5 separate regions of the Homo sapiens genome follow, and all the other regions are linked to region 3. Evidence: fine-mapped expression QTL. A gene starts in region 3. Each other region holds a variant in brackets. All regions are shown on one strand. Distances are from middle to middle. Region 1 overlaps GAK (cyclin G associated kinase). Region 2 overlaps GAK (cyclin G associated kinase). Region 3 holds the start of GAK (cyclin G associated kinase). Region 4 overlaps GAK (cyclin G associated kinase). Region 5 overlaps GAK (cyclin G associated kinase).

The links.
Region 1: its variant is fine-mapped to the expression of GAK in whole blood (TOPMed, PIP above 0.99). The same link has a PIP of 0.9 or more in esophagus muscle, gastroesophageal junction, sigmoid colon and tibial artery.
Region 2: its variant is fine-mapped to the expression of GAK in skeletal muscle (FUSION, PIP 0.90).
Region 4: its variant is fine-mapped to the expression of GAK in whole blood (TOPMed, PIP above 0.99). The same link has a PIP of 0.9 or more in B cells, monocytes, monocytes after interferon gamma and transverse colon.
Region 5: its variant is fine-mapped to the expression of GAK in whole blood (TOPMed, PIP above 0.99).

What each region holds. Positions count from the first base shown.
Region 1 is chr4:891,649-896,746 of GRCh38, forward strand. It overlaps GAK (cyclin G associated kinase), which reads right to left. Exons shown (of 28, transcript NM_005255.4): 7 at 4,812-4,901; 8 at 2,226-2,361; 9 at 1,729-1,841. Among named protein-coding and RNA genes, the nearest start is that of GAK, 38 kb to the right of the region's middle. The variant C/A (reference allele first, on the strand shown) is at 2,925.
Region 2 is chr4:853,956-859,053 of GRCh38, forward strand. The region is part of intron 24 of GAK (cyclin G associated kinase); the gene reads right to left. Among named protein-coding and RNA genes, the nearest start is that of CPLX1, 30 kb to the left of the region's middle. The variant TCAC/T (reference allele first, on the strand shown) is at 2,371.
Region 3 is chr4:929,872-934,969 of GRCh38, forward strand. It overlaps GAK (cyclin G associated kinase), which reads right to left and starts at 2,445. Exons shown (of 28, transcript NM_005255.4): 1 at 2,172-2,445. The coding sequence starts at 2,316. It overlaps TMEM175 (transmembrane protein 175), which reads left to right and starts at 2,589. Exons shown (of 11, transcript NM_032326.4): 1 at 2,589-2,669. RefSeq lists a silencer at 2,231-2,550 and an enhancer at 2,711-3,030.
Region 4 is chr4:846,852-851,949 of GRCh38, forward strand. It overlaps GAK (cyclin G associated kinase), which reads right to left. Exons shown (of 28, transcript NM_005255.4): 25 at 4,899-5,098; 26 at 4,085-4,233; 27 at 3,041-3,217; 28 at 2,426-2,923. The coding sequence ends at 2,822. Among named protein-coding and RNA genes, the nearest start is that of CPLX1, 23 kb to the left of the region's middle. The variant G/A (reference allele first, on the strand shown) is at 2,545.
Region 5 is chr4:881,496-886,593 of GRCh38, forward strand. GAK (cyclin G associated kinase) reads right to left here. Exons shown (of 28, transcript NM_005255.4): 12 at 2,542-2,591; 13 at 1,820-1,968; 14 at 1,202-1,324; 15 at 412-545. Among named protein-coding and RNA genes, the nearest start is that of GAK, 48 kb to the right of the region's middle. The variant T/C (reference allele first, on the strand shown) is at 2,426.

The DNA.
Region 1 (5,098 bases), 38 kb before region 3:
GCACCTCCTCCCGCCCCATCAAGAATCCCTCCAGCGCACTCGACAAAGCAAGAGGCCCACACCCCCCTGCGAGCCCACTGTCCTCTGTGACCTCCGGGGGAGTGGGCAGGCATTTTCTGTAAAGAGCCACCAAGCGAGGGGGACACGAGGCCCAGGCTGCTAAAGAGCAGGACGGCCCAGGAGTGATCCCTTCCTGCCGCTCTCTGACAGCCCCAGGGAAGCTTGCTGAGAGGCCACCAGTGACATCAACTCTCCCGCCTCAGAGCGCCCCACACCTCAAAATGCTTCCAGCACCCAGCACCAGGGCTCCCTCTGCTGGTGCACCCACCATGATGGCCGCCAGAGAGGGGCACCACAGCCTCTCCCCGTCTGCACTGGGCTTCCCAGCACTTCCCTGCTCCCAGGTCTCTGTACCCACGCGGCCCCCAAGGAACTGCAAACCCTCCACACAGCCCAAACCTTCCTTGTCCCACAGGGTCCTGTCCTCAGACAGGGACTCCGGGCAGCAGCTCTGACCTTCTCCCCACGCTCCACACCCACCGCCTGGGTCAGCTCCACTGCAGTGGCCCCTGGAAGTTCCGGCTTCCAGCTACCAGGGAGTGGAAACGACCCAAGGGCTGAAAAGGGGACAAAATGCAGGAGCCAAGAGTCCTGGGTCCTTGGACACAGACCCCTGCGAGATCTGCAGAGGGGCCCTGCGTGTCCTGACTGGGCCCTGAGCTGGGATGCCCAGGGGCCTCCCTGCTCCCCGTGGGTGAGGGCCGGGCCGCGTGTCTGCTCTGCCTCGAGGATCTGGTGATGGAGATGCTGCACCCTGTCCACGGCTGGGTCAGAAAAGACTCTGAGGAAAGCATCTTCCAGCCAACACGTGCTGCTCCCTCCCAGGCCTCACACTTCCACAAAGCACACGGCCCTGTGGGCCTCAGTCTCCCAGCCCCCAGGCCCTGATGCTGCCAGCAGCCACCGGTGCCTGGGAGTGGACCCTGGCCAGGCCCAGCCCTGACACAACTGCAACCAGGACGCCCAGAGCTGAGCTGAGGGTCAGAAACACAGACGCAGAGCAACTCAGGACACCCCAGGACGCCCAGAGCTGAGGGCTGGCTGACCTGGCTTGGACACCAGACCCCAGAAACAAAGACACAGGAGCAATTCATGCTGTCCTGTCAGGGGAAGAATCTAGAAAGGCGCCTGCAAACCTCAAGGAGGCCAGAGGAGCGCGTGCAGAGTGCGAAGACCTTGGCAATGGTCCCAGCATGCCCCCGGGGTCTCGGCCCTGGGCTGCGGTGGTGACCCTGCTCCTGCAGGAGCCCAGGGCCCTCAAGAGCTTGTGGCTCCCCACTGAAGTGGGCAGAGACCCCCAGGGTGCAGGGTCCGGACGAAGCAGCACAGCCACATGCCACCCTCCTCTCTGTGGGGGGATTTGGGGCTCACATGTGCCTCCCTCCCCTCTGTGATAGGAAACTTGGGGTTCAGGTGTGCCTCCCGCCCCTCTGTGATAGGAGACTTGGGGTTCACATGTGCCTCCCTCCCCTCTGCGGGGGATCTGGGGCTCACGTGTGCCTCCCTCCCCTCTGTGATAGGAGACTTAGGGTTCACGTGTGCCTCCCTCCCTTCTGCAGGGGATCTGGGGCTCACATGTGCCTCCCTCCCCTCTGCGGGGGATCTGGGGCTCATGTGTGCCTCCTTCACCACTGCGGGGGATTTGGGGCTCACGTGTGCCTCCCTCACCTCTGTGATGGGAGACTTGGGGTTCACGTTGCGGGCGGCCGCGATCTCCTGCAGCTGGTGCACCACCTCGGCGATGGACAGCCGCTCCTCCGGGTTCACCTGCAGCATGGCGCCTGCAGCAGAAGCACAGCGCGCTCGGCCCCACGGTTCCCCAGGCGGGTCAGCACCCCCTGCACTGGCAGAGGTCACAGACCACCAGAGGCCACTCCCTCTACACACATCAGTGACGTCAGAAGCAAGAAGGGAGCGGCAAAGGGAAGAACAAAAACCGAACAAAATGATCAAAAATCACCACTCAGAGCACCGCAAATTCACCAGCGGGGTGGGCGGCAGGGGAGCTCTCTGGAAACCCCCCCCCCAGGGATGTTGTCAAAACTATGGTGACGGGCGGGAGTGGGGCCAGGTGAGCAGTGCCCCAAGGGGAGCGGGGTCTCCAGAGCCACGCGGGGTCTGTGCTCCAGGGTCCTGCCCCACGCACGCATTCCACCGGGACTTACGGATGAGGCTGTGGAAGACCGTGTACTGCGTGTCGTGCGGGGGGATCGAGTACTTCCCATTGACTATTCGAAGTTTCGCTCCATCCTCAAAAGGGTGCTGCCGGAAGCACAGCAGGTACAAGATGCAGCCCAGGGCCTGCGGGGAGAGCAGGGGTGATGCCTAGGCCCACGGGGAGCGCAGGGGTGACGCCTGGGCCTGCGGGGAGAGCAGGGGTGATGCCCAGGCCCACGGGGAATGCAGGGGTGACATCGGAGCCGTGGGGAGCGCAGGGGTGACACTGGGGACTGCAGGGAACACAGGGGTGATATCGGGAACATGGGAAATGCAGGGGTGACACCGGGGCCTGCGGGAACAACAGGGGTGACACCCGGGCCGCGGGGAGCGCAGGGGTGACGTTGGGGCCGTGGGGAGCGCAGGGGTGACGCCTGGGCCTGTGGGGAGTGCAGGGGTGACACCCAGGCCTGCGGGGAATGCAGGGGTGACGTCGGAGCCGTGGGGAGCGCAGGGGTGACTCCTGGGCCTGCGGGGAGTGCAGGGGTGACTCCCAGGTCTGAGGGGAGAGCAGGGGTGATGCCCGAGCCCAAGGGGACAAGGGCGTGAGAGGAGCACCGCAGACATGGTGACTGGCCGAGGGGTGGCTCCTTCCTTGGGGATCCTAGGGGTATAGTCGGTGGTTACACAAACATCACTTGACTGTG[C/A]GGAGCTGGCGGCGTGCTTCCCACGGCACGGGGAGGCCTGGATGCTCCACTTCTATTCACCGCAAAGAACTGTCCAGGTGACAGTGTTAAACGGACTCTAGGCTCTTAAGATTAAAAAGTTCCGTTCAGGCCGGGCGCAGTGGCTCACGCCTGTAATCCCAGCACTTTGGGAGGCCGAGGCGGGTGGATGACAAGGTCAGGAGTTCAAGACCAGCCTGGCCAACATGGTGAAATCCCGTCTCTACTAAAAATACAAAAATTAGCCAGGCGTGGTGGTGCATGCCTGTAGTCCCAGCTACTCAGGAGGCTGAGGCAAAGAACTGCTTGAACCCGGGAGGCAGAGGTTGCAGTGCGCCGAGATCGCGCCACTGCCCTCCAGCCTAGCAACAAAGCGAGACTCTGTCTCAAATAAATAAATAAATAAATAAATAAATAAATAAATAAAGGTTCCTTTCAAAATTCCGGGGTTCCCACACTCATGCACTGAAGATCTATGAGCTGGTGGGACCAGCACAGACCCTGCTGTGTGCTATGCGAGGGGCAAGGCACCTGTCCTGTCCTTGGCAACAGCAGAGACCCACTTTTCAGAACTGACCCCATATGCAGGGTGTAGGGCACAGGGCAGAAGCTGCAGGAAGCAGCCTCCTCAGTCTGCTCAGGATTTTCGCAGAACTGGCCTTGAACAATCAGCGACTTCTCGTCAATCACCCAATATGTGAGCCCAGAGAAGGGACTGGTGATTACTTCGGCATCAGGATCTTATCCAGCCAAGAGTAAGAGCTCACACCGGGACCCCAGGCCGAGCAAGAGCCGGCCAGGAGTGTCCTCGTGCGGGATGTGCAGAGGACCAGTCACCAGGGTGGGCCAAGAACACAGGCAATGACCACACACGTGGCCCCATCCTTCCACACTCCTCAAGGGACACAGGGCCTCAGCCTACAGCCCACATACTGTCTCAGCCTGCAGCCCCACGTGCTGTCTCAGCCTTCAGCCCATGTGCTGTGGCTGATGGCACGGCTGACCCGGTCCGTAGGCAAATACACTACGGAGGGCCAACTGCCGCACCTGGTGGCTGAATGACGGGGTAAGGGGACGTCAAAAGAACCACAAGGCAGGACACCCTCCACGCGTGGTCACCCTCGGTCAATGGGGACATGGCCTTGGAGAGATGCAGGGATGAGGGAGGACGCAGGAGACCACCCCAGCCATCAGGCTCAGCCCTCACTCTGGCCTGGCTCTGAGCGCAGCAAGGCTGGGGTGTGGCAGGGACACTCCTGGGCCAAGGCACTCAGGGCCAGATGCACAACAAGCCATGGACGGGGCCGAGGGGAGCCTCAGGCAGACCCAGCCGCACAGGACGCCCCCAACTGCTACTCGACTCATCCCTATTAGAAGTAGTCAAGGTTGGGCAGGGTGCAGTGGCTCAAGCCTGTAATCGCAGCACTTTGGGAGGCTGAGGCAGGTGGACCGCTTGAGCTCAGGAGTTCGAGACCGGCCTGGGCGACATGGTGAGACCACCCCTTCTACCAAAAATACAAAATAATAGCCGGGCATGGTGGTGAGCACCTGTGGTCCCAGCTACTCGGGAGGCTGAGGTGGGAGGATCCCTTGAGCCCAGGGGCGGGAGGCTGCGGTGAGCCTGAGCCGAGGTCACACCACTGCACTCCAGCCTGGGTGACAGAGGAAGACCCTGTCTCCAAAAAAACCCAAAAAAACAGTGGCAGCCACAGTGATTCTTAAGGAAAGGAAAAAGAAAAGGGGACGGGAGGGGAAGAGGGGGTGGAGGAGGCAGGCCAGTTCCGAGTGGCAGGTGCCCGGCCCACGCCGCCTCAGGTTAAGTAGGGCGCACGGAGCCAGGCACTGCCACTGAGAGGCGCCAGACCTCACCCAGATATCCTGCTTCTCGCCGATCGGGAAGTTGGAATACAAGTCTATGATTTCTGGTGTTCTATACATTGGTGTTGTATTCCTCGTGATCTGAAAAAATACAAACATTTCAAAGGAAAAGTTGCATCCCACAAACAGTATTTTTTATGTTGCACCACTTCCGTGCAGCTTTCCAAATGCACAGCAGACTGAGGGGCAGCCTGTCCCGCACACTATGCCCCGGGATGACCTCAGGCCAGTCGGCCCCATGCACCAGCTCCGCTGCTCATCTTCGGCCTCAGCGCGCT
Region 2 (5,098 bases), 76 kb before region 3:
TCCAGCTAATTTTTGTATTTTTAGTAGAGACAGGGTTTCTCCATGTTGGTCAGGCTGGTCGCGAACTCCCGACCTCAGGTGATCCGCCTGCCTCAGCCTCCCAAAGTGCTGGGATTACAGGCATGAGCCACCATGCCCGGCCGTCTCTCGCCCATTTTCTTTCTTTTTTTTTTTTTTTTAATTGATCATTCTTGGGTGTTTCTCGCAGAGGGGGATTTGGCAGGGTCACAGGACAATAGTGGAGGGAAGGTCAGCAGATAAACAAGTGAACAAAGGTCTCTGGTTTTCGTAGGCAGAGGACCCTGCGCTCTCGCCCATTTTCTAACTGGATTGCTTTCAGTTTGTTTTTGACTGTATTTTTATATTCTGTAGATGAGTCCTTTGTCAAATAGGTGGTTTGGAAATATCTTCTCCCAGTCCGCAGCTCAGATGCTCAGAGCTCTGAAGTTGGGTCCACCTGTCCTCTTATGGGTGTGGTTTGGGTGGCGAGTCTACGAACTCTGCCCAGCCCCAGGCCACAAAGGTTTTCACCTAAAGGCCCTGCATTCTGATGAGCTGTTCTGTAGAACGAGGGCTTAGGGCTTTGCCTACCGCTGCCCAGGTGCTCCAGACCATCTGATGAACGGGTTTTCTGCCTCTGTCAAAGCTCCGCTGGTCTCTCTTGTGTGGCCTGAGTCCTCTCTTCTCTCCACAGACGCGTCTGTCTGCCATCGCCGCAATGTTGATTTGTGGCTTCAGAGTAAGCCTCAAAGCCAGGAACAGTGACTTCTCCCATTTCATTTTTCCATTACAAAAATATTCCAGGCATGGCTGGGTGCGGTGGCTCACGCCTGTAATCCCAGCACTTTGGGAGGCCGAGGCGGGCGGATCACGAGGTCAGGAGATCAAGACCATCCTGACTAACACGGTGAAACCCCATCTCTACTAAAAATACAAAAAATTAGCTGGGCGTGGTGGCGGGTGCCTGTAGTCCCAGCTACTCAGGAGGCTGAGGCAGGAGAATGGCGTGAACCCGGTAAGGGAACTTGCAGTGAGCCGAGATCAGGCCACTGCACTCCAGCCTGGGCGACAGAGCGAGGCTCCATCTCAAAAAAATAAACTATTCCAGGCATCTAGTCCATCTGTCTTTCAAATACACTGTACAGTAAGCTCATTTGTATCTAGGAAAATCCCTGCTGAGGCGTTGGTAGGAACTGCGTTAGGCTACAGATGCACACAGGAGAACGGCCACCTTACTCGGGAGCCTCCAGGCCGTGAGTGCAGCGTCCGTCCCTTCACTCGCATCTCCTCTGGTCTCTTTCGCCACGGTTGGTTTTGTAGTCCCACCACACAAGCCCTAGACATGTCTGGTCAGATTTATACCTAAATGTTTATTTTTTCTAAAAAAAAAAAAGGTGATTGTAAATGGTACTGTTTTAAATGTTGGCTTCCTTATATAATTGCAAGTAAACAGAAATAGGACAGATTTTTGTGTGTTGACCTGGTATCCTGCGACCTTACTGAACTCATAGTTCTAAAAGATCTTTGTAGATTGCTTCAGAGTCCCTGCGCAGACAATCGTGTCATCTGCAGACAGGAGTAATTTTATTTCTCCCTTTGTAGTGCGTGTAACTTTGATCTCCTTTTCTTGCCAAATGGCAGCAGCTGGGACTTCCGACAAGTACAAGTGGAGAAAAGACACTCCTGCCCTGTTCCTGATTTTAGGAGGATGGTTAAAAATGATATTGGCTTGGCCAGGCAGGGTGGCTCATACCTGTAATCCCAGCACTTTGGGAGGTCACTTGAGATCAGGAGTTTGAGACCAGCCTGGCCAACATGGTGAAACCATGTCTCTACTAAAAATACAAAAATTAGCTGGGCATGGTGGTGCATGCCTGTAATCCCAGCTACTCAGGAGGCTGAGGCGGGAGAATTGCTTGAAACTGGGAGGTGGAGGTTGCAGTGAGCCAAGATTATGCCACTGCACTCCAGCCAGGGCAACAGAGCAAGACTCTTGTCTCAAAACAAACAAACAAAAAAAAGATGTTGGCTGCAGGTTTCTGGAGACAGGGTCTTGCTCTGCTGCCCAGACTGGAGTGCAGTGATGCAATAATAGCTCAGGCCAGCCTTGACCTCCTGGGCTCAAGCGATCCAAGTGATCTTCCCACCTCAGCTTGCTGAGTAGCTGGGACCACACCTGCTCACCACAGCTGCTCACCACACCTGCTCACCACCACAGCTGCTCACACCTGCTCACCACAGCTGCTCACACCTGCTCACCACAGCTGCTCACCACCACAGCTGCTCACACCTGCTCACCACAGCTGCTCACAACTGCTCACACCTCACCACAGCTGCTCACCCCTGCTCACCACAGCTGCTCACACCTGC[TCAC/T]CACAGCTGCTCACACCTGCTCACACCTGCTCACCACAGCTGCTCACCACAGCTGCTCACACCTGCTCACCACCACAGCTGCTCACCACAGCTGCTCACACCTGCTCACCACAGCTGCTCACTACAGCTGCTCACCACAGCTGCTCACCACCACAGCTGCTCACACCTACTCACCACCACAGCTGCTCACACCTGCTCACCACCACAGCTGCTCACACCTGCTCACCACCACAGCTGCTCACCACAGCTGCTCACCACCACAGGTGCTCACAGCTGCTCACCACAGGTGCTCACACCTGCTCACCACAGCTGCTCACACCTGCTCACCATAGCTCACCACAGCTGCTCACACCTGCTCACCACAGCTGCCCACATTTGCTCACCACCACAGCTGCTCACCACAGCTGCTCACCACCACAGCTGGCTAATTCTTACAGGGGTCTCACTATATTGCTCAAGCTGGTTTCAAACTCCTGGGTTCAGGAAATCCTCCCACGTTGGCCTCCCAGAGCACTGGGGTTACGGTGTGAGCCACTCCGCCTGGCCTGGCTGTGGGTCTCTAGACATGCTTGTTACCAAGCTGACGACGTTCTGCTCATGACTGGCTGACAGTGCTGCCATAAAAGGTGCTGACTTTCTGAATTTTGTTAAATGCCTTTTCTGCCTTGTTGATGTGACCACATGACTCTTCAGCCAGTTAATATGATATCAGATTAGTGCAAAAGTAATTACGGTTTTTGTGATTACTTTCAATGGCAAAACCACAATTACTTTCGCAGCAACCTAAATAGATTTTGTTAACAATTCTGAAATGTCAGCCTTGGATTCCTGGAATAAATCTTACTTGATCTTGGTGTAGAATTCTCTTTATATACCGATAAATCCTATTTGCTGAAGTTTGGTTGAGGATCTGTGTGTATATTCATGGGGAATATAGTCCCAGTTTCCCTTTCCGGTGCTGTTTCTGTCTGATTTTGGTATCAGGGTGATAGTATGAGCTTCGTAAAATCAATTAGAAAGTGCTCCGTCTCTCCTGCTTCCTGTGAGAGGGTGGAATTGGCATTCTCTTTCAACATTCGGTGAAATTCTCCAGTGGCCCAGGTGGGTCCGCAGGTTTCCTTTTTGGGAAGTTTTTAATTATGAATTTATTTTCTTTGTATTTATAGAATTTTTCAAAGGATCTACTTGATATTGGGTAAGTTGTGGCAGGAACTGGTTTTGAGGAATTTATCAATTTCACGTAAGTCGTCAAGCATACTGCACAGAGGCGCCTGCACCCGTGACCCTCGTAGAGCCTGCGGGGTCTGCAGTGGTGCCTCCTGCACCATCCCCCATATCGATGACCTGGGTCACTCTTCCCAGCAGCCCCGGGAGAGGTCTGTGGGCTTCAGAACTGGCCTCTGTCCCTGTGTTCCACTGCACTGCCCGTGGCTCCTCATTCTTTCTTTCCTTCCGCTTGCTGTAGGCTTATTTCGCTCCCTTTTTTTCCCCCCAAATGTCTTGTGCAGAGAGCTCAGGTTACTGCTGGGGCATTCCAGCTTTTCCACAGCAAGCCCCCACGGCTGCGGGTGTCTCCACACTGCCTGATGGGGCCCTGGGCTTTCCTAGGCTGCACTTGCATCTTCACTCAGCTCCACGCATCGTCTCCCTTGAGACCTCCTCTCTGGCCCAGGTGTCGTTTGAAAGTGTGCTGTTTTGTTCCCAAGTGTGAAGATTCTTCCGTTCTATTTCATTGTGGTCAGACGGCATGCTGCAGAATCCTAGTTCTCTGAGGACAGGGCCTGTGTGGAGGAGGCTCCCACGGTGCATGGAAAGGTCCGTGCCTGCAGCTGGTGGGCCCTGCTGGCTGGCGCCTCTGCCCTTCTACATCCTTGCAGCCTTCAGTACAGCTGCTCCGTCATGTGTCGGGACAGCAGTGCTGACGTCGCCAGCTATGATTTGGGTTTGTCTATTTTTTCCTTCAGTTGTATCGGCTTTGCTCTTCCAGAATTGCTGTCTTCCTAGAAGGCAGGATGGTTTCAGGCCGCCCACCGAGCCAGCAGGCGGAGGGCTGGGGCTGTGTCTGGGACACAAACGGCGGGGATCCCTGGGAGTCCACTCCTTCTGCCCCAGTGCCGGCTGCCCAGGGCAGTCAAGGCACACGCAGGTCTCCTCCCGAGGGCACGGCCCTCGCAACCCCACCGTGCTCTCAGACAACACAAGACAGAGGCCACAAAGGGAAATAAAATACAAAACCACACCGACAGAAACGCTCATGGATGTCCTCAAGACATAGTAAATCCCCAAAACCACCTGAAACATAAAAAGAACATTCAAAGACGAAAAAACTCTTGGGACTTCATGACAGAACAGAAGGCACTTCAGATGTGAGCTCGCAAGAGCAGAGTGAGGACTCAAAGCCAGCCCGGGAGAGAGTGAGGACTCGAAGCCAGCCCTAGAGATCCAACGCCGACACCTGCTCACAGGAATTTGAGGCACTCAGGGAAGGACAGGAGAAACGATGAGGAGACGGGAAATGCTCCCGGAGCTGAGCAGGAGCAGATGCCATAGCCTGGGGCTGCATGCTGGAGCGTCCGGGGGTCACCGGCACCAACAAGCATCCCAAGGTGGAGCCACTTCCCACCCAGCATTCCACCCGACGGCCAGGCAAGTGCAAGGGAGGCCCCTTCAGATGATCATCCCCCCGCCGCCGACGCTTCTTCTGAGAAGCCACAGGGACCCCAGG
Region 3 (5,098 bases):
AACCTGACATGAACTGATATGGGGTTAATTACAGACTTTAATTATCCCACAGTGAGAATATTTATTCATTTAATTACAGAAATATTAATGTATTCAATTACAGAATACTTTCCCAAGTCTTCTGGGAGTATCCCACGATATACAGGTTATATGCTGCAATGACCATTCTGAAACCTGAAAAATTCTGGAAGTGTAAACATCTGTACTCAAGGGTTCAGATTACCAGCCATCACCATGTTTACACAAGACAGCCTAAACTCCCATAGCCTATGTTCTAAGGTTGCTGTTCAGACAAAACTTAATTAAGTATGTTTATATAAAATACTTAATTCAGCTTTCACACTCTGTTTCAGTTCAAAGAGGCTTCAAAGTACTTAGGAGGCTGCAGGCCACCTATTAAGTTTACAAGGAGGAAATCTACAGCTCCTAATTGCATTGGTTATTTTTATCTCCTGACTTGCCTAGATAGCAAAGGGAAACAAGTTCTTTTGCACAACCTCAGCAGCTGCCCACATTTCCTTGTTCTTCTTCCTGGGTGCTAAGTGACCCACAAGCTTCTTTCTTTATACGAATCTTCCTCTCCGGGCCCCAGTGAGGGTGCATTCTCCATCCCTCCCACCAAGATCCGTGCCATCTTCTGCTTGGCCCCTTCCCAAAGCTCACACTGTCTGTACCACCCCTAAGGATCTGTCCCTGTGCTGCCTCTGTCTCTCCACCCCTTGAGCACAAGTCTGAAGTTCCAGAAAGCAAGTCCTGTCCACAATAAACTTCTTAAAGAATGAAGATAACCACCTAGTATTTTCAGAATAAATGATTTGATCTGAGAGAAATCTTCCAACTGATGTGAAAGAATATCACACTTCAGCCCCCACTTCTGAAAGAAGAGCTTAGACTTTCTGACCAAATCATACCCAAAATCTGTTTGGTTTTGACCACAATGGAGACAAAGTGTGTGATAATGCTACAGTCAAAATGTCTCCGCAGGCCTTTTGTGATAATCAGAATTCTGGGATAGTCTCCTGTCTGGTCACAGAGCAGGCACCTGGACAGGCTAACCCTCCAGCCCTGAGAGGTACCAGGGAGCTGGTGAGGGTGAGGGCTTTTGTGTCGCTTCACTCCCTCTCCCTGTGCCAATACAGCAGAATAGAGTTACGCTTCCGCACCCAAGTCAACTGTGTTTAGCCCATAAACTTCACAGCCAGTGAAATATGACACACCTCCAGGCACCACTGGACAAAAAATGTAAGGAAAATCCACAAGAGAGAATGGGACCCACTGGCACTGGTGATCGATTCCGTGTGAACGGAGAGGACATCCAGGGAGCTAGAAATAGCATGCAGAGACAAAACTGACTCAAGACTGACTCAAGAGGACTTAAGCCGAGTGACCTGTCCACTCTGCAAGTTCTATATAGGTCACAACCACTGGCTCTGCTTCCTGTACTACACACGGAATCACACGAGTAGATGTTCACCGGGAAGAGAAACACTGAGGTGTTGAAAGACGAAGGGGGATCACGAGACACAGCCCAGTCTACCCTCGGCCAACCCCCCCACCCCCCAGGCTACAACCGCAACTACCTGCAACACGTGTGCACCCACCAACTCTCAAGTTCCCTGGACTGTAGAAGAACCAGCCCTAACCTCCAAAGTCCAGTCCTGTCCCTGCCTGCTCAATAACCCCAGATGTCCGGCAAAAGGCCAAGGCTTAAACCCACCTCCTGCACCGCTCACCTCCTGACTCCAGCTGTCGGCCTTCTAGGCACCGTCCCTCAGTCTCCGCTGTGGGTCCCCACCCAAGCTCCCTGCCTGCCACCATCCCCCACCTCACCGTAACATCTTCCCCCACCCACCCTGAGGGGGTTCCCCAAGCCCCAGGCCTTGCTCCGACTTGACCCTACTCTTATGACAAGAAAGTACCCCGACCCGGTCCCAGCCTCGCCCTCCGCAATCACCGCCAGCAGGCACTCACCTACGCCCGCGCTATGACCTTCGCCTGGCCCTGACCCACGCCCTCGGCAGAGACCCTCCCCTGGCCGACCCTGACCCACGATCCCGCTGGGACCCTCCCCAGCCCTAACCCACGCCCTTCCACTCCGGGCTGACGCTGCCCCCAGCGTCCCGGAGACAACACTCCGCGGCCGCACCCGCGCTGCCGACCCGGGGCCTCACCTTCGGCCAGGACCCGCCGCACCCGCAGCCGCAGCTCGCCCAGTTCCACCGTCTGCCCCACGAAGTCACTCTGGTCGCGGCCGGAAGCACCGCCCAGGGAGCCTGGACCCGCCAAGAAGTCGAGCGCCGACTGCAGCAGCGACATGGCGGTGGCTGCGCCGCACCCCGCGGCAGCCGGAGTGGTCGGGCTCGGGCTCCCGCTCCCTCGCCGTCCGGGTCAGCTCAGCAACCGCCGGCCCGGAGGTGCACCATCTTCCGCCTCGACGCCGTGACGTAGGCGCCCGTGAGGACGCGTCGCGTCAGGCGGCGACCCGGCCTAGCCCCGTCCCCTCCGCCGCGGCCTCACTTCCTGGCTGCGCGCGCAGGCGCGGAGGTCTGACGGAGACAGCGCGTGCGCGGCGTCGCCGGGCTTGCGATGAACTTCCGGCTGTCAAGCTCCCGGCCGGGCTGACTCAAGCGGAGGCGCGCGGAACAGTCGCCGAGGCGATTCCCGCCCAGGTAGTTCAGCGCCCCAGTCCAGCTCCCGGTACCGTTCCCCACATGGTCTGTTTTGTGGGAGGCTCCTTCTCAGGTGTCTCCGGTTTAAGCGCTTCGCCATCCTCTGGGTGGAGTCAGCCTCCCGTTTGCTGTTAGCGCCGCGTTTGCGAATGGGTTCGCGAATTTTTCTCTCAGTTGGCTAAGGAGCAAGGAGTTAGCGTGCGTTAAGCTTTCAGTAAATACTTGGTTTTCGTCTCATGGAGGTCGGAGTTTCCTGTGACGCTTAGTGAGTAAGGTTGGCAGCCCCCTCCCAGCAGCCAGGCAGGCAGTTTGCAGGGGAAACGCTGCTGCATTGCTCTGTCTTCCGAGGAGAGGGCCAGGGTCTGGCCTGGGGCAGTGACCAGTAGTGGGAGCCGTGGGCTAGAAAAACCTTCGTCCTGGGCAACCACAACACTGCAGAGACTGCCCTGTGACCCTCAAGGTTCGTTCTCACCCTGACATTTTCCAAGGCAAAAGCAAATCCTCATGAACCACTTGGAAGGGTTCGTAATGCCCAACTATTTGGAGATGAAATGGTGACTTTCCTTATAGGATAATAAGGAAATGGCTCACAGACAATGCATTTTTAGTTTTTGGCCCACACAGTATTTGGGGGTTGGGAGTGGGTAGCAGGAGGTGAATTAGTTGCTATCATTTAAAGACTGATGCCAGGCGCGGTGGCTTACACCTGTAATCCCAGTGCTTTGGGAGGCCGAGGCAGGCGGATCACCTGAGGTCAGGAGTTCCAGACCAGCCTGGTCAACATGGTGAAACCCCGTCTCTACTAAAAATACAAAAATTAGCCGAGCGTGGTGGCGGGTGCCTGTAATCCCAGCTACTCGGGAGGCTGAGGCAGGAGAATCGCTTGAACCCGGGAGGCGGGCGCCACTGTACCCTAGCCTGAGACTCCGCCTCAAAAAATAAATAATAATAATAATAATAATTGAAAGGCCTAAATGTTAAAAACCTAGTTTTCCAGCTTCTGTGGAAAAATCAAACCTGTCAATATTGGACCCAAAATGATGTGTGTTACCAATTACCTAGAGTGGTCCCTTGAGGTAAGACACAGTCATTTGCCTGACCAGATGGGCTCATGTATGTTACCTGCCTGGTTCCTATAGTCATTTAAGGTTGCAACCCCTTCAACAGAGTTATTTGTTCTCCAACTCAAAAATGGATTCTAAAGCTCACATCAGCCTCTTAGCCGTCCCAGAAGCTAACATCTGTTATCTTTATCATTAAAAGATAATAGCCTCAGCTCGTTGGAACACTTATCTATGTTATGGAATGAAGTATTGCATGAAGCCAAATGACATCTTTAAAAATATATATAACAAAAATAACAGTAGCAATAGCTTAGTTTAGGCACTGATTTATTGCTTACAACACCCTTTTCTGTAATAGTTCATTGTAGTGAAAACATCTTTGTGAAGAAAGCACAGTATAATTAACCCCCTTTATTTTGGGATGAGAAAATATGCTCAACAATGCCATTATTCGGCCAGGGCCAACAAGTGATACAACTGCAATTCAACGCAAGTCATGGCTTTTCCAGCCAGTGCGTTTGTCTGGTCGACTGTGGAATAGAAGGATAGAGAGCTCAGGAAAGAATCCCTGCTAGAGACAGATATCTGGGCATCCTCAGCATAGAGGTGGCAGTTGGCTCTAGGAGCTGAAGAGAGGACCAACAGAGATGGTGTACTAGACATAAAGAGGTTAGAATCTTCAGAGAATAGACAGTTTGTGGAGAAAGAGCAGTCAGTGAAGGAGGAAGAAAACCAAGAGAGTGTCGTAACAGAGCCAAGGAACGAGGATGTTCGGGGCAGAGAGTGCAGCTAAGAGTGTCGAATGCCACTTAAAAGTCAAGTAGAAAAAGAAATGGAAGATATGTGTTGGATTTATTCACAAGGGATCATTGGTGACCTCACCAAGAATAGCTTCATTGGAGTAATGAGGTGGAAGCTACATATTACCGTAGAGGGATGAAGAGATGATGAGGTAGAGATGGCAAGTGGAGATAACTCAAAATGTTTGTCTGTGGAAGAGAATATGAACAACTTCAGGCCAACAAATTCGGCACCCTTAGCTCCAGGGAGCTACAAGGGTGATGTAGTATTGAGATGTTTTAAGATGAGAGATTCTTGAGCAGCCTAAAGCGGATGGAAGGGAGAGAAGGTTTGCTGGTACAGAAAAAAGAGGAATAATAAGATAATTCTATCTTAATGAGATATCTTCTATCTCTTAGAACATAGGAGGGGAATGACATCAAGAGCATAGGTAGAGATATTTGCTTTGGACATAGGAAAAACACTCAGGAAGAAAAATGGGCTGCAGTTGTAGGTGACCTTATGTATTTATTGGAATGAAGGTGAAGGAATTCTCTAATGACTTCTGTTTTCATTGTGAATGAG
Region 4 (5,098 bases), 83 kb before region 3:
GCCTCTCAAGGTTCAAGCGATTCTCCTGCCTCAGCCTCCCGAGTAGCTGGGACTACAGGTGTGTGCCACCATGCCCGGCTAATTTTGTATTTTTAGTACAGACGGGGTTTCTCCATGTTGGTCAGGCTGGTCTCCAACTCCTGACCTCAGGTGATCCGCCTGCCTCCGCCTCCGCCTCCCGAAGTGTTGGGATTACAGGTGTGAGCCACCGCACCGGCGTCTATTTTGCTTTTTAAAAGACTGCCGGCCGGGCGCGGTGGCTCACACCTGTAATCCCAGCACTTTGGGAGGCCGAGGCGGGTGGATCACGAGGTCAGGAGATCGAGACCATCCCGGCTAACACGGTGAAACCCCGTCTCTACTAAAAATACAAAAAATTAGCCGGGCGTAGTGGCGGGCGCCTGTAGTCCCAGCTACTTGGGAGGCTGAGGCAGGAGAATGGCGTGAACCCGGGAGGCGGAGCTTGCAGTGAGCCGAGATCCCGCCACTGCACTCCAGCCTGGGCGACAGAGCGAGACTCCGTCTCAAAAAAAAAAAAAAAAAAGACTGCCAAGCGGTTTTCCAAAGCAGTTGTGCCATTTTAAGCTCCCACCCAGACTGCGTGAGGGTGTGGGCTTCTCCACATGCGTGGGGACACTTGGCTTGGTGGGTCTTGACTGGGTGCCCTAGTGGGTGCGGCAGCATCTTGCTGTGGCTCCAACTTGCATTTCCTCCAGGACCAGTGATGTGAGCATCGCTGCTTGGCCGCTGCCATTTGTATCTCCGTGAAGTCACCGAGAAGATGCTGTCACACAAGGGGGTGTCACACAGGTGCAGTCTCTCTTCAAGCTTCACGTGGTCTATGCATTACAACCCGGCAAGGATGACCTTGTGTCCACGTGCAGGACGGAGCATAGTCACAGGCTCGGTGACCGCAGACCCGGCTCCCACGTGCAGAATGGAGCCTCAGTGACTGTGGGTAGCACTCAGGCCAGTGGCCGGCTGGGAAGATGGTGCATCCTGGGCCTTTCACGTGTGGGTGTCCGGGTGGCGCCGTGCGTGACCCTGTGCAGCCGTGTCTGCGTGTGCGCAGGTGTCCGGGTGGCGCCATGCGTGACCCTGTGCAGCCGTCTGCATGTGCGCAGGTGTCCGGGTAACGCCGTGCGTGACCCTGTGCAGCCATGTCTGCGTGTGCGCAGGTGTCTGGGTGGCACCGTGTGTGACCTTGTGTAGCCGTCTGCGTGTGCGCACGGCTTGTACATGCCTGTGCACCTGCGTGTCTCCATGCTGAGCTGAATGGTTGGAAGAGGAGAAATTCTGGCGGTAGCATGGCCAGGTGGGGGCCACAGACTCCCTTCTGAGCTGGGTCAGCCTGGATGGGGGTTTTCCTGTCCTGCAACCCAGACCCCACCGTCCTGGCCTCCATTCTATGCACTCCATCTCAGCCTACCCCGGACCAGTGACCTGCTGCACTCCACACCTTCCTCCATCCTCCGCAGTCTCGGCCTAGCCTGGACCGGCCACCCGCTGCTCTCCACACATAACCAGAGGCTCAGGCCCCTGACGGAGGAAGGGTGTGCAGCCAGCCAGAGGGAGGTGGACTCACTTGTCCAGGCAGGGTGGCTGGGTTTGCCACAGGCCGGGGAGAAGCGACCCAAGCTTTCAGAGTTAAGGGTCTGGGGCGGGGTCTGGGGGATTAGTTTGGAGCTTGGGTGTGACGTGGGCGGCAGCAGGAGAGGAGGGGGCCGCACAGCACAGGGCTGAGGCTGGAGAGCCTAGAGGGAGCGTGGCCCGAGCTGCCCCCAGAGCAGGAGCATCTGAGTTGGGGTGGCCAGACCCGGAGCCGGAATCCAGACGACCTTGATGTGAAAATCTCAGCACCTATTTAGCTTCTCATTATTTTTTAAAAGAGCTAAAAATAGTGGCGGGTGCATAGCAAACGTGCAGTCATTATTCTCTGAAAACAGGAAGAGCCTGGCGGTGAGTTCAGGGCTATGATTCAGGGCCTCCTCGAGTCTGCTGTGGGGTGGGGGCTCACCATGGTCACCTTCTCCTTCCAGGGGCCCCTGGTCCTCCACCAGCCCGACAGCCCGGAGGCCACCTTGGCCCTGCGGGGATGGCACAGGGGCAGTGTGGAGCCCACCCTTGCTCCTAGGTCCAGGGCCCAGGGGCAGGGGCCAAGTGGAGAGGAGAGAGGAGTCCCGGGGCCGAGGGGAGGAAGGGGGTCTGGGGACTGCAGGGGCCCCCGCCCTTGGCCTTGCCCTGGCTGGGCTCTATGGCCCCCTGAAGAGCTGCCCAGAGCCGCTGCAGCCCCGGGACCCGCTTCTCCTCTCCACTCGGCCCCTGCAACAATCCAACCACGGCAAGGTTGCTGAGGAAGCACAGCCTTGTGCCCCAGCTGGTGAACGGCACCTGGGCGAGTGGATCCACACTGGAGACACAGCAGTCATCGGAAAATAGTTTAATTCTGTACAGACAACCACGGGACTGATTACAAAGTGCGGTGCAAACACCAGGGCCCATGAGCGCCAGCAGCGTGGCCCACCACGTGCCGGGGCTCCAGAG[G/A]CCACGCCCGAAACACCAAATAAATCACAGACGTGACAATTGCGGGAGGAGCATGAATCAGCTGTTCCTTCGGGAGGAGAAAAAGGAAACAACAATCAGAGGCTTTGGAATGCTTTCTCTTCATGTGCCTGGAACGCTGGGCGGGCGGTGACCCGGGGCTCGGAGCCCCACCCTGGCCACACCTGCTGTCGCCCACGGGGTCCTCACGGTGGGGACCCAGGTCCCACGACGGCTCCCAACCTGTGGAGCTGTGTGCGCAGCCACCACCACTGCGGCCTCAGAAGAGGGGCCGGGAGCCCTGGTTCTCAAACTCCGACCAGGCGTCATTCAGCTCCATGAAGATCATCTTGGCGTGCTGCTCGTACGGCTGCCCCGCAGCCTATGGGTGACAGGCGGTGTAAGCGCCTCTTATAAGCATGCGGGGGCGGGCGGGGCAGGACCCCCCCCCCGCCCCGCCCCTGAAGGCCTCAAGCGGCCGCCTGGCAGCTCTGCTCACCTTGTCGGGGTGCACAGCCAGCACCGCGCGGCGATAGTGCTTCTTCACTTGCTCCGGAGCCACCAGGTCGGCCATGCCCACGGGCGTCCAGCGGCTCTCCCCGTCCCACAGCACTGTGTGCAGCGTGGACAGCAGGGCCCGGATGTTCCGCTCCTTGCCCTCAATCCAGTCCAGGAGCTGCGGGAGACACGGAGCTTGCCGAGCCCTGGGCACCTGCCTGCCCTCCTCCTCTGCACCGCGGAAACTGAGGCACGACGCTGAGGAAGTGCCTGGTCACGTGGGGTGGGCTCAGCCCGGCTCACAGACACTGTCCCACTGCACGCCCTGCCCTCAACTATATAGAGCCCACTCCGGACGACACAGGGCCAGGTGGTCTTCATGTTTCAGGGCCTGGGGCCAGAGGGACCCTCGTCTCAGCCAGATGTTCACCGAGGACACAAACCCTGGTTCTGGTGGTGCAACCCCTTGGCCCATCCCAGGCCCCAGACTCCGAGGGAGAAGGGGATGGTCCCTGGTGCCTGTGAAAGGACCCCAAGGTCACAGGCGCATGTGGCCTGCAGAGCTGGGCATCGGCCAAGCCACAGAGCAGGGCGTGTCTCAGGGCCGGCACAGTGACAGCCTGACCGCTGCATCCTCACCCCCCAGTGAGCGTCCTGGGTTGGGAGGCTCAGTACCCAGAGCAGCCCCCAAGAGACGCCTGCCCTCAACAGTCTCTGCAAACACCCCGGGGCACTCACTCCTGTAACGCCCGCCCACCCCACCCCCACCAGCGCTGAGCCATCTGGGCACGTGGGGAGCAGCACAGCCTGGGGCCTGACTCTGCCCTGCCCCCCTGGCCTCAGGCCACCCTGTCCTTGAGGGCTGCCAGGCCCATCGGCAGTGACAGGTCCCTGTCTGGAGACGCCGGCTCCATGTGGTACAGCAGATGCTCCAGGGGTGAAAGGTTGCTGTCTGGAGACGCCGGCTCCATAAGGCACAGCAGATGCTCCAGGGGCCATGGGTTGAGGCCTCTGGGCTCCCAGGAAGAGCTGCCCACCCACCCACCTTCAGCTTGAGTGGGTCCGTGTCTTTAGCCAGGTCCTGCTTCCTCATCTCTGCAATGGTCTTTGGCCCTTTCTTGTCAGACCTGGAGGAGAAGCCTTGATTGGACAACAGATCTTCAAAGTCGTTCTCAGAGACTTTTGGCTTTTGAGCTAGAAAAGAACAGAAACTTTTTTTTGTTTGAGACAGGGTCTCCACTCTGTCACCCAGGCCAGAGTGCAATGGCGTGATCTCAGCTCTCTGCAGCCTTTGCCTCCCGGCCTCAAGCGATCCTCTTGCCTCAGCCTCCCAAGTAGCTGGGACCACAGGCATGCGCCACCATGCCTGGCTAATTTTTACATTTTTTGTAGAGAGGAGGTATCACTGTTGCCCAAGCTGGTCTTGAACTCCTGGGCTCCAGCGATCTGTCCGCCTCAGCCTCCCAAAGTGCTGGGATTATAGGCGTGAGCCACAAAGCCCAGTTAAGAACAGAAACTTTCTGCAGAGACACACAGGCCCAATTCCACCTGCTGCCCCCGGGAACAGGGCTACCATCCTGATGCCTCCAGAGTAAAGAAGAGGGAAGACAAGACAGGGTTGCAAAGGCCATTTGTTAAAAACAGGTCAAGAAGGTGTCACTGGAACAAGAGGGACCCAGAGGCCTGACCCAGAGAGAGACCAGTGAACACACATCGGAAACCGCGTCGTTCTCTGAGTGGCTTGGCCGTGCCTGTCCCAGGACTGGGCTCTGAGATGAAGAAAACAACATAGGTTCTACCTTTAGCCAATTCAGGGAGGTCTCTGCAAACTCCACAGCAACAGAGAGTGGGGGACTCACCAAAGCTGGGTGCGCGGACCCCCCGCTCCTCCCGCGCCCCGATCACACTGAAGTTCGAGGCATAGTTAGGCCTTGGCTGTGTGCAGGCTTTGGGGGGCGGCTTGGCCTGAGGGGGCCATGAGGCGCCCTGGGCTGGCGGCCGACTTGTCTGCCAGGAGCTGCTGCCTTTGGGCGTGGTGGCCGTTTTGGGAATGAAGCCC
Region 5 (5,098 bases), 48 kb before region 3:
AGAAGCCTGTATTTGGCAGGGCCCTAAACACGCTGTGACTGTACTCATGTCTGAGCAGCGTCAGGTGCTCCACACGGCACCTGTGTCAGGTGCTCCACACGGCATTTTCACGTGCATTATCCACCAGAGCCCACCACATACATGGCATTTGTCAGAGAACCTAGGATCCATGCACAAGCTGGGCAGGTGCTGCCCCACAGCAGTCAGGACTACCGCGGCTGAGGGCCCATCCTCCCCGGGCTCTGCGGCCGTAAGCCCAGGGCTCAGCCATGGCTCCGCGAGGCCGGGCCTGCCTTTCCCACCAGCGCCTGCAGCGGCACCGACTGGCCCTCCAGGAGACACCACAGCGGGGGCGGCAGTGCCACACGGGCCCACAGAGCTGTCCCCTGTCCCCGGAGGGCCACGCAGTACCTTTTGTGGGATGGCCAGATGCCTGGTGGGCAGCGCTTCATGCTGAACATGTACACGGCGGCCTCCGCGGTGCTGAAGAGACGGCAGAAGCACAGGAAGGAGCAGACGGCCACAGCAGACGCGGCTCTCCCGTCCTAGGACAGACAGACACGTCTCGCGTGCGCCTCGCACTCATGCAGGACAAGGGCTCGCGGGGTCCTCGGGCATCCTACCCACCCTGTGGCTGCAGGGACGCAGGGCTGTTCCTCTCTGAAGCTGGGATATGTTTAGGGAGCTACATAACGTGCCTGCCGAGGCAAGAATGGAGCCCAACAGAGACTGAAGGTTCCCTAACGAAGAACAGGGCTAGGGCCACTCCAACAGGCTCTGCTGGTGCCCCGTACCCCGCAAAAGACCCCTCATGGAAACCTCAACTCCATCACCCACAGTGGCAGCTGCCACACCCTGGGAGGCTCAAGCACCACTAAGCCTCGAGCTGCAGATCGGGAAACTGGAAGTGACTCTTAGGTGGCCACCGAGCAGGAGGGGAGGTGGGCTCCCCACACAGCGGAGTGGCCTCCACACGGGCATGCAGGTCAAGGCCAGGAAGGGCCACATGGGGAGGGAAGGGCGGGGCCATCTGTCATCTGTCCCCTCCAGACCCAAAGACACCAAGCACAGGGACTTTCTTCCGTGTCCCAGGGTGAAGAACAGGCCCCAGCTCATGACTGGCGCTCAGATCCTGTTGAACTATGCATGAAATAATGAACTTTGACAGAAGACGGCGCCAGCCCACGGCCCTCGAGCTCACCATGCAGTGCACGACGCAGACGTTCTTGTGGTCCTGCCGCAGCCAGGCGTGCATGTTCCTGCAGATGTTGTACAGGGTGTGCAGGTGTGGGGCCCGCCGTGCTGCCCAGCCACACTCGGAGACCTGTGGGGACAGGGCACGGTGGCACGGACGGCAGAGGAGCCCCGCCCCAGCCTTGGTCAGCTAGGAGGGACAGCCTGCCTGCAGTGCGGGGGCCTCCGCCAGCTGGTGTCATGAACAGGCGTCCACCTGCGCGAGACCTGAGCACCAGGGCTGCCACTGGCCTTGCAGACAGAGCTCAGTCAGCTGTTCCTGGGCTTTGGGTCCCTTTGCATACTGACAAGTGTCGTGTCTGGAAGGAATGCCTCGGCCTCGAGCACCCTCTGGCTGGTGGGAAGCAGTGAGGAGCTGGGGCCTCCAGAGTTCCCGGCAAGCGGCATCCTCAGAGCAACAGAGACCCCACCTCGCCCCCTCCTGTCCCACGCTCTGCAGCCCCTCAGGAGACCTCCGGCCGCCCCCATCACAGCCCCACCCTGGCCAAAGCCCTCAGCTATGCCCCTGCACTGGAGCGGAAGGAAGCTCCAGAGTGGCACCAAGACAAAGCCTGTGGCCACACACCCGGTTGTGGAACCTGGAGGGCCGGTAGGTCCTCGGGGACAGGTTGTAGACGGCATAGTGCCCTGGGTGCTTGGAGTCCAGGAACAACCGCACATCTTCGATGTTGTTTTTGAGCGCTGACTCCACACCTTCTGCTGGGAATGACATCACTGAAACAAGCAGACCTGCGTCAGCACCTGGGAGATGCGCACCTCGTGGCCAGGCTGCTGCTGCGGCCTCGCTGCTCCTGACGCCCCCGGGCAAGCGCAGCCTCCGGCAGCTCCACCAGCCACTGCCCACACAGCCGGCCCCCTCACCCTCCGTGGACTCCCAGCCTGGGTGGACCTAGGAGCATGGACCCAGCCACACGCCCATCAGCCGGTGGCTGGGACTTCCTGAGACAGCTTTCTGACACCTGCCCTGTCTCCAGGTGTCGGGATGAGTGACTGGGATGCCTGGTGCACAGAGGCCCTGGTTTTCCACGGACACGGCCTTGTGTTGTTCCTGGCATGACCTCAGGGAGCCATGGGAGGCCAGGCTGGCGCTGACCCTGTCCACTGCTGCGCCTGGAGGTGCTGAGCACAGGCCGCCTGCCTGCCAAGGGGCCCCAGGTCACCCCTGTGAGTC[T/C]GTGGCCACAGAGAAGGCTGGAGCAGAGGCACCTGTGCCCTGACACACAACAGGGACTCACTGGGCACACAGGGAAGGGCCGGGGCGCGTCCCACAGCCTCATGTGGCACGCATACCTGCAATTCTGGATGTGATGTAAGATATGTCCAGGTCACCCTTTGCATAACTGGAATTAAAAAGAAGAGAACTTGGTTATGACAAGAAACACTCCGCAGTTAGGTCACAGGGCTTAAGCCAGAGCCCGAGGCCTGGAGAAGCCGTGGGGCTCTCACTGTAGAGGCCGCATCCCAGGAGGAACGTGTGTGTGCACAGGCGTGTGGGCAGCTTCCCGGCTGTGTGCGTGCTGTGGAGCTGACCCCTACATCAGAAACGGATGGAAATGACAGCCTGCAGCTGGTGGAGGCATGGGTGAGACAGGAGAGACATCCGCTGTCTGACTGCCCCTTCCCCTGCGCTCTCCAGGGAGGCACGGCCCAGGAGTGGGCTGGGAGAGGGATGGCAACACCGGTGGAAGGGGAGGGCTGGAGAGCAAGGGTGGCTTGGACGATGGTCACGGGTCATGCCAGGCTCCACGCGCTGCCCAGGCCTGGTGGTTGTAGCAGTGCGACTCCAGCAGACGCCGCTGGAGGCAGAGAGGGCCCCCTGCCCTGAGTGCCTAGAAGCCCCTGCTGTGGCCACAGCCAACTCTCTACAGACCAACTGCCCCCAACACTGGGTCCACGGAATCGGTAACACAGAGATCAAAACCCTCAATAACTCTGCAAGGACCCTGACAGGTTTATCCCACAATTCACTGGCAGCAGCAGCTGTGTAAGAATGGCCAAGCTGTTCTTGTGAGGGAAGGAGCAGAAGGGAGCCTCCCTCCCAGGACAGAGCAGGCCGGAGGCTGCGGGGACCAGAAAGGCTGGGCTAGGAGCAACCTCAGCTAGGCACATCGCAGAGGTGCTGTCCCCATCAGAGGAAAGCCTGGATAAAGGTCCAGAGAGATGAATGACCCAAATACACACGACCGAACCATCGCCTGAAAGTGACCATGCGTTCAAACGTTTTAAAAGCCGTCTAAACCCGCAGAGCAGGTGCTGACATAGGATGCGGGTCTTCCGTGCGTTCAAACGTTTTAAAAGCCGTCTAAACCCACCGAGCAGGTGCTGACTCAGGATGCGGGTCTTCCGTGCGTTCAAACGTTTTAAAAGGCGTCTAAACCCACCGAGCAGGTGCTGACACAGGATGCGGGTCTTCCAAAGCAACAAGGGAAGACGGGGAGGCACGGTGAGCCTGACGCTTGGCCACTTTTGCAGCAAGAGACAAACAGGCCACACAAAGCATGGCTACTGGACCTATAATCTAATCACCGGTAGAAAAACAAAAATAGGGGCCAGGTGCGGTGGCTCATGCCTGTAATCTCAGCACTTTGGGAGGCCGAGGCAGAGAGATCACCTGAGGTTGGGAGTTTGAGACCAGCCTGACCAACATGGTGAAACCCCCACTGCTCCTGTACCACGGCAGGCAGCGGCAAGCACAGCAAGCTGACACGCCTTAAGCAAAGGTGGGCATTGAGTGCCACAGGATCCACGCACATCTCACCCACCCCAGCAGCCCTGCGGGGGCCCCATGGACCTGGCTGTGTAGGCCTCAGGCACGTGTACCACAGGTGTGTGTGTGCTAGGGCTGCACCGGATGCTGACGGGACAGAAACCAGGGCCCAGACACAGGGCTCAGGCCCCGAGGCCCTGGCTTCAGAACAGCAAGCACCAGGGCAGCCAGGGGCTCATGGCCACCCAGGTCCTGACTCCTGGGCTTGTCCGTGGGGGAGAGCCAGAAGCACAAATGAATTCACTGTCCTTTTTTTTTTTTCATTTTTTAAATTGAGGCAGGGTCTTGCTCACTCCAGGCCAGAGTGCAGTGGCACAATCACAACTCACTGCAGCCTCAACCTCCTGGGCTCAAGCGATCCTCCCACCTCAGGCCCCAGTGTAGCTGGGACCACAGGTGCACGCCACCTCGCCCAGCTAATTTTTTATTTTTGTAGAGACAGGGTCTTGCTGTGTTGTTGTGTTGTCCAGGCTCGTCTCAATCTTCAAGTGATCCTCCCTCCTCGGCCCCCCGAAGTGCTGGGATTACACGAGCCACCGTGCCCAGCCATCTTTTGAGCCTCCAGGCCCAACCAGAACTCACTGTTGCTTCTAAGTCAACTTTACAAACACGAGGTTATGCAGCTTCATCTGCCTCAAGCACGTGATGTGAACAGAAGGCAGAGCAAAACAAACAGCAGGGCTGCCCTCAGCTGGAACCTGGGGGTGTCAGGAGGGTTCCCACCATCCCCTAACAAGCAGCAGCTAGCTGTGCCTGAGTGCCATGCAAGCAGCGCCTGCTCAAGCCAAACTGTGTCCTCCTAGGGCCTGGAACCCATGGGTCCCAGCAGAGCCATTTCTAGAACCAGCCCCTGCGGCCTTAGGCTTCCAGCAGACAGCAGCTCCCACCATCCCCACAGCTGCTGGGGAGGGAGCGTGGCCTGGAGTCCCCCAGGGAGGACTCTGGAGCTGTGCCCGGCTCCCTGAACGCCCCACATGCCTCCTCCCTCTGCTGACTCCACTCTGCCTGTCCCCACAATGTGCTGCGGCCATGGAGACCATTTTCACTGATGCCGAAAGTGACCGTTCCTAGTGACTTTCA